Linked DNA regions of Homo sapiens. The protein of the gene in region 2 interacts with the protein of the main gene of each other region in a pairwise test. Each region holds a gene or a part of one and is shown on either strand. Other genes may lie near its edges.

What was found.
Region 1: the proteins of CFHR5 (region 2) and KCNK7 interact in binary tests that used the Homo sapiens proteins (3 or more experiments, as listed by UniProt).

Annotation. Positions count from the first base shown.
Region 1 is NC_000011.10:65,593,001-65,597,127, reverse strand, and holds the start of KCNK7 (potassium channel subfamily K member 7), read left to right. Parts: upstream 1-1,327; 5' UTR 1,328-1,355; coding exon 1,356-1,674; intron 1,675-3,253; coding exon 3,254-3,652; coding exon of another isoform or gene 3,653-3,708; exon of another isoform or gene 3,709-3,744; coding exon of another isoform or gene 3,745-3,785; exon of another isoform or gene 3,786-3,917; coding exon 3,918-4,123; 3' UTR 4,124-4,127. UniProt on the Homo sapiens protein: Probable potassium channel subunit. No channel activity observed in vitro as protein remains in the endoplasmic reticulum. May need to associate with an as yet unknown partner in order to reach the plasma membrane.
Region 2 is NC_000001.11:197,001,556-197,005,055, reverse strand, and holds part of CFHR5 (complement factor H-related protein 5 precursor), read right to left. Parts: intron 2,575-3,500; coding exon 2,392-2,574; intron 396-2,391; coding exon 213-395; intron 1-212. UniProt on the Homo sapiens protein: Involved in complement regulation. The dimerized forms have avidity for tissue-bound complement fragments and efficiently compete with the physiological complement inhibitor CFH.

The sequences.
Region 1 (4,127 bases), on a different chromosome or scaffold from region 2:
CCTGTAGCCCCAGCTACTTGGGAGGCTGAGGCAGGAGAATAGCTTGAACCCGGGCGGCGAAGGTTGAGTGAGCCGAGATTGCACCACTGCACTCCAGCCTGGGCGACAGAGCGAGACTCCATCTCAAAAAAAAGAGTAGTAAGTTCCACCCACCTCCCAGTATGGTGACTTGCCATGGCATCTGGCACCCCTGACAGTTCTCTTCACACTGCCATGGGGGCTCTGGCACTCCCACACCATACCCTAGGGCAGGGTCCCTCCCTCGGCCTCTGTCCATTCTCTTCACACTGCCATGGGGGCTCTGGCACTCCCACACCATACCCTAGGGCTGGGTCCCTTCCTTGGCCTCTGTCCTCAGCCCCTCTGACGTTAGAGGAGTTGGAACCCAGGCTCCCCCTTCCCCTCTCCCAGGTGCCCCATGGCAGCCCAGACTCTGTGTCTGCAGTTCAGGGGCAGGGAGTCAGGAGGGCAGGCACAAAGCGTTCTCAGGAAGAACTGGCAATCGGGCGCAAGGGTATCATCTGCCCGGGTGCTCTGGGCACCCTGGAGTCCTCTCCCCACCTCCCACCCCCACCTGATCCTTCCCAGCTGCCACCATTCCTCTCCCACCACACCACCCAGGCCAAAATCACTCCATCCATGACGCCTACAGTAGCCCAGCGTAGGTCTCCCTGGACCACATTTATCCTCAAGGGCCTGTGTCCTTATCCCCCCTTCACCCCCAACTCTCCCCTGCCACAGCCAGCCCTCTGTTCCTCTCACACCCCAAGCTCATTCCTACCTTCACTGGCCTCTTACTCCCCAGCTGAAATATCACCTCCTTAGCAGAGCTTTCCCAGTGAGATAACCCCCCCGCTCCCCGCAGAGCTCTCCCATCACCCAGGGTGTTTCCTTCATGGAACTCATGACAATGTGAGGTTGCCATGTTTCTTTGCTAAGAGGTTTCTTGTGTAAACACCAGGAAGGAAAGGACCTGTGCCTGTCCTCTTCCCTAAGCACTTGAATGAATGAATGAATGAATGAATGTGGTATGGGTGCCTGAGTGAGCAGGACCTTGAATAAGTGTGAGGTCCTCTCTAGGCTTCAGCTTCCTCCGCCTCCTCCCCTCACCGCAGCCGCCTTCCTCCACCCATCCCCACCATCCCAGCTGCTGTGAAATGGGCAAATGTCTTGCCTCCAGGACCTGGGAAGGGTGATGCAGCTCACCTCCCTCCTGTTCACACCCCAGCCACCCCAGCCATCCCAGCCGGGTCCCAGCCACCCACACAGCACCTCCTCCTGGCCCCGCCCTGCCCAGCCCCTCCCAGGTGCCTGAGGTGGAGCCGCCAGTTCCCACAGCACCCCAGCGGCCTGCCATGGGGGGTCTAAGGCCCTGGTCCCGATACGGGCTCCTGGTTGTGGCCCACTTGCTGGCCCTGGGGCTTGGGGCTGTGGTGTTCCAGGCCCTGGAGGGGCCTCCTGCATGCAGGCTTCAGGCTGAGCTCAGGGCAGAGCTGGCAGCCTTCCAGGCAGAGCATAGGGCCTGCCTGCCACCCGGAGCTCTGGAAGAGCTGCTGGGCACTGCCCTGGCCACCCAGGCCCATGGGGTCTCCACCCTGGGCAACAGCTCAGAGGGCAGGACCTGGGACCTTCCCTCAGCCCTGCTCTTCGCTGCCAGCATCCTCACCACCACAGGTAAGAGAGCCAGGCAGCCAAGTCGGGGGGTGCGGCTCCAAGAGGCCATGGCTCCCTGGGGGCTTTGGGGTTCATGCAGCCCTTCCTTCAGCCCCAAAGAGCCAGATGGAGCCCAGGCCCTGTGAGGCCTGACATCACAGCTGGGGCTCCCCACCAACACACCCCAACTGGTGCCTCCACTTCAACTGCCAGGAAGGGTGTGGCCTCCCCAGTCCCACCCCAGGCACCCTTTGAGACCCAGGAGAGCTGCCCAGATGCCACAGCCTGTGGCCAGATAGGGGATACAATACAGTGGGATGGATTCTTGGATGGAAGCAAATAGAATGAACCTGGGAAGGACAGATCAGGACCATGGCCTCGGGTGGGGGAGTGAGGGAAGATAGGGGAGGAAGTCGGCATGAGATGCTTGTGGATCAGGAGGGCACAGACAGGGATGAGGGAGTCCTGCAGAGAAATCGCGTGGGCACAGGCCCAGGGAAAAGCAGCAATGAGACCCACAGCCCTGGGTTTTCGTATTTTTTGCCCCACAAAGTGTCTCAGTATTTTTTGAATTGGAATTTGTATTTCCAACTTTTTTTTTTTTTGAAACGGTGTCTGACCCTGTCACCCAGGCTGGGGTGCGGTGGTGCGATCTTGGCTCACTGCAACCTCCACCTCCCGGGTTCTAGCAATTCTCCTGCCTCAGCCTCCTGAGTAGCTGGGACTACAGGCATGCACCACCATGCCCGGCTAATTTTTGTGTTTTTAGTAGAGACGGGGTTTTGCCATGTTGGCCAGGCTGTTCTCAAACTCCTGACCTCAAGTGATCCACCTGCCTCAGCCTCCCAAAGTGTTGGGATTACAGGTGTGAGCCACTGTGCCCAGCTCATATTTCCAACTTCTTTTGGAAAATCAGGAAACCCACTCACACTGAGCCAGAATCCCTGCAAGGCAACATCCTGACTGGAGCAGAATGGGGCCTGCCCTTTGGATACAGCTCACACTTTCCAGTGTACCCCTGTCCCCACCACTCCTGTTTGTCTCCCATCTGGCTCCGGTAGGCATGTGCGTTTGCAGCTCTGTATTAGCTGATCCTGTTCTCCCAGCACACCCCGCACTCCCACCCCTCCCCGCCTGGCACATGCCCTCTCTCGCCCATGCTGCCTCTTTGCAGCCCTTCATGATTTGCCTGCCCGACTCCCCCACCAGAAGGGGCAGGGCCTGGGCTGATTCAGATCCCAGTACAAAGCCTGGCACACAGGACATGACACACATTTGGGGAAAGAGTGGATGATATTCCACCAGCTGTGGAATCGGGAGTATCTGTTAAGGGCAGCGCAGTTCTCAGAATTGTCCCAGCTACAAAAGGCCTGAGGAACTGTCTTCTTTCATCCTTTCATTTTCCAAAAAAGAAAAGAATGGCCTAGAGAGGGTAAGGGATCCCCTGACGAAGAGGAGCAGAGCCAGCTAGAACCTGGGCCTGGCCAGTTCAAGGCCACCAGAGGGCAGCCTTCTGCGGAAGGCAGTATTGGGGTAGGCAGGGACCCCAGCAGACATGGCACTCAGAGCTCTCACTGTCCACTGACTCTCTCTTCTCCAGGTTATGGCCACATGGCCCCACTATCGCCAGGCGGAAAGGCCTTCTGCATGGTCTATGCAGCCCTGGGGCTGCCAGCCTCCTTAGCTCTCGTGGCCACCCTGCGCCATTGCCTGCTGCCTGTGCTCAGCCGCCCACGTGCCTGGGTAGCGGTCCACTGGCAGCTGTCACCGGCCAGGGCTGCGCTGCTGCAGGCAGTTGCACTGGGACTGCTGGTGGCCAGCAGCTTTGTGCTGCTGCCAGCGCTGGTGCTGTGGGGCCTTCAGGGCGACTGCAGCCTGCTGGGGGCCGTCTACTTCTGCTTCAGCTCGCTCAGCACCATTGGCCTGGAGGACTTGCTGCCCGGCCGCGGCCGCAGCCTGCACCCCGTGATTTACCACCTGGGCCAGCTCGCACTTCTTGGTAAGTCCAGCCACCTAACAGCGTGTGGGGGAAGGGGGAAGAGGAGCCTGGACTAGGACTCCCATAAATCACTGGGGGGCTGGGCCTTGCAGGTGGAGGGACCTCACTCCAGGGCACGGCGTGGGAGGGGTAGTCGAAGAGCTCTGGTGGCAGCGTTGAGAAGGGGGTGAGTGGTGCCAGTTGCCAGGGCAAGTCACTGCGCTGGGAGGTGGGCGGGGAGCATCACCAGAACCCAGGCGCTGCCCCAGCACCTTCTCCTCCCCAGGTTACTTGCTTCTAGGACTCTTGGCCATGCTGCTGGCAGTGGAGACCTTCTCTGAGCTGCCGCAGGTCCGTGCCATGGGGAAGTTCTTCAGACCCAGTGGTCCTGTGACTGCTGAGGACCAAGGTGGCATCCTAGGGCAGGATGAACTGGCTCTGAGCACCCTGCCGCCCGCGGCCCCAGCTTCAGGACAAGCCCCTGCTTGCTGAAGCG
Region 2 (3,500 bases):
AGGTCTTTAAAATTTTATTTATAGTTTTTAAATAAATTTTTCTCACTTTGCATAAAGCAAATTTTTCAAATGTTTCCTTGTATGTATTTACATTTGACAGGAAAGATTTTGACTGAATGAAACTTAAGTAAGGGTTATTCTATGAAATTAGTCCAAAAAAATTACACTATAAATATTAAATCTCAGATTCCAAGAGAATATTAAGAACTCACCTAGGCATCTTGGTGGTTCTGACCACTGTTTATTTCTGCATGTTACAGTTACAGAGCCCTGGAGTTTATAGAAGGACTGGCAACGGTACGTCACTGTTGACCCTGGAGGATATACTGATAATGGGAATGAGGTGGTATCTCCATTGTTAATAGATGGAGGGGGCCCACAATATGCAGTAGACTCTGGAAAACAGCATTTATTTGTTGAGACATTATGTTAGTTTAAACAAAATAATATAATGAAGCATCATGTATCATATCTTTAATATAAGGTGTCTGGAAATTCAAATAATTAATTACAGTATTTCTGTCATAAAGTCTGATTCAAAACATATTGTAGCTCCTTTCATGTTAAAGTGAAATTCATATAAAATACCGGGAATACTTTTTATTGAAGGCAGGAGAGACAGGTGAGTAAACTTCTGGTCTAGGTTCCTCCTCCACCCCTTAATATTCAATTGTCACTTAAAGAGGAAAGGTAAAAGTAAATAACTTTCTTACTGTTTCTAGTCTCAGGGTAATTATTACTTTATGCAAATAGCATATACCAACTAGTATATGATCATAAACTTGTAGTTTTACTGAAAATGAATTGCAGACACACTCTTCTGCATTTACTTTTTTGATACCAAATAATATTGTAGGCATCTTTCCCTATCAATAAATGTTTCAACTTCATGCTAATGAAGAGATTTTGGGGAAAACTAAAAAAAGTAACAACTTCATGCTAAGATTGGCTGGAATACGTTCAATTGTACTGACTGATCTCCCTTTATATATCACCAAGAACATAAATATGAAATCACTAAGTAATCCTATCCCAAATTGCTTGTACATCCTCTAGTTTCATTGAGTTACTGTCCTTGCTTTCTCAGATTGACTTCTTCATGATGACACTAGATTCTTTCACCTTTAAACTTGTAAAAGATCCTTCTTCATGAATTATCTCCTTTCTTCTGTAACATCAATGTCTCCCTTTCCACTTAATCATTCACCAACCTACAAACATGCTGAAAATGTCACAATTCAATAAGGTAAAATTTCACTTTCTCCATATCTTCTATCCGGTAACTGCCTCATTTCTCTATTCCCTTTTGAACACATTTACTTGTTTCTCATCCTCCATGATCTTACTTTATCACCCCACATTCTTTCTTGAACACACTGCAATTACTTACCCCCTATGGAAATATCTCTAGGCAAAATTACCAATGGTTTTTATTTAGATAAATAGATTGTTCAATTATCAGGCATCTTGTCCAGCTCTAAGCACTCTTTGCCATATCTGATGTTTTGTCAAGTAATATTTTGAAATATGTGCTTTTGAAATGCAGCCATGTAGCACTTAATGACAAGAAGATATTCTGAGAAATGTGTCATTAGGCTCTTTTTTCCTTGTGTGAGCATCATGGAGTGAGCCTACACAAACCTAGATAATGTTGCCTACTACACACCTAGGCTATATGGTGCAGCCTATTGCTCCTATTGTCCCCAAACCCCTGGCTGCAGACCAGTACCCTCTGTGGCCTCTTAGGAACCGGGCTGCATGACAGGAAGTGAGAGGCAGGCGAATGAGCATTACTGCCAGCATTACTACCTCCTGTCAGATCAACCAGGGCACTAGATTCTCATAGGATCTTGAACCCTATTGTGAACTGCACATGCAAGGGACCTAGGTTGCATGCTCCTTATGAGAATCTAATGCCTGATGATCTGAGGCACAGGAGTTTCATCCTGAAACCATCCCCCAACCTCCTCAGTCCATGGAAAAATTGTCTTCCACAAAACATGTCCCTGATGCTAAAAAGGTTGGGTATTGCTGTCCTAGGCCACAAACCTGTACAGCATGCTACCATACTGAATACTATAGGCCATTGTGACATGATGGTAAGTATTTGCATATCTAAACATATTTAAACATAGAAAAGGTACAGTAAAAATATGATAGAAAAGATTTTTAAGAAGATGTAGAAATTTCAAACTTGTTTCTTCTATGAACACTGTTGGAGATAACTCTTAGAGAAACTTTTTTAAATGACAGAATTGGTTACTTAGCAATTTAAGGCTTTGGGGTACAGTGCAACAGATTAGTCATAAGTTCTTGTTTCTTTCTTTAGATAAAGCAAAGGGGATTAATAACCTCTTTTTAAGTGAAATTACTTAGAAATAAACTACTAACCAACACAGCGTGGTAATGATTGCCATCGTCCATCTTTACATACAATTTCTTTTGCTTCTGGAAGTAGATAGTTTTCTTTACAGAGAACAGCTACTTTTTCTCCATCCTGATAATTCACTGTGGTTGTCATATTCTGAGCATTAGGTATCTGAGGTGGCGGTGGGCAGAATTGTTCCCTTTTTTCTACAAAATATTGGAATTAAATTATATGATTAATAAAAGTTAAGTAAAAACAGCTCAATAGGGTAGTGTTTCAGGAAAATGGAAGATTCAATGACACACACACACTATGTCTCTCTATCACTTTCTCTTTCTCTCTCCCTATATATAAATGTTATAATAACAAATATTTTTTGTGTCACTATAGTTTACAGTTTAAAAAGCGATTCTTTTTGTTATAACCATTAGTTTAAAATTTTTCAGATGCTCTCTTGTATCTCCTATTCATTATTCCTGTCAATTCTCTTGTATAATTTACAAATAAATTTCTTTAATTTTTTTCTAACTAACCCATATGATTCAAAAAGTTATGTACATTGAATTTAAACAATTTAAAAATAAAAATGACAACAATCAGAAATAACTATGACTTCCCCTAATAACTGAACCCTAGATCTCAATAAAGGATTTCCATGACTTGCATTTTCTTGTAAACATGAGAATGGCTGGTAATGAACATAACTGGAATGCCTCCGTTGGACTAGGAATTAAATTCTTTTTTGGTTGCTTGGCTTATTCTTAGGGAAAAGTTTTAAATGGTCAACTTGGATGCCAAAGCGTTTTCTAAACCTCCTGACCTGGGCTCATGCCCTTACAGTGATCTCCTTCATCTCATGTTTTTCCAGAGTGGTGGCTACTGTCTACTAACACTTCCCTTCAAAATGGTGGGAATTGAACAATGAGAACACATGGACACAGGAAGGGGAACATCACACACCGGGGGCTGTTGTGGGGTGGGGGGAGGGGGGAGGGATAGCATTAGGAGATATATCTAATGCTAAATGACGAGTTAATGGGTGCAGCACACCAACATGACACATGTATACATTTGTAACAAACCTGCACGTTGTGCACATGTACCCTAAAACTTAAAGTATAACAATAATTAA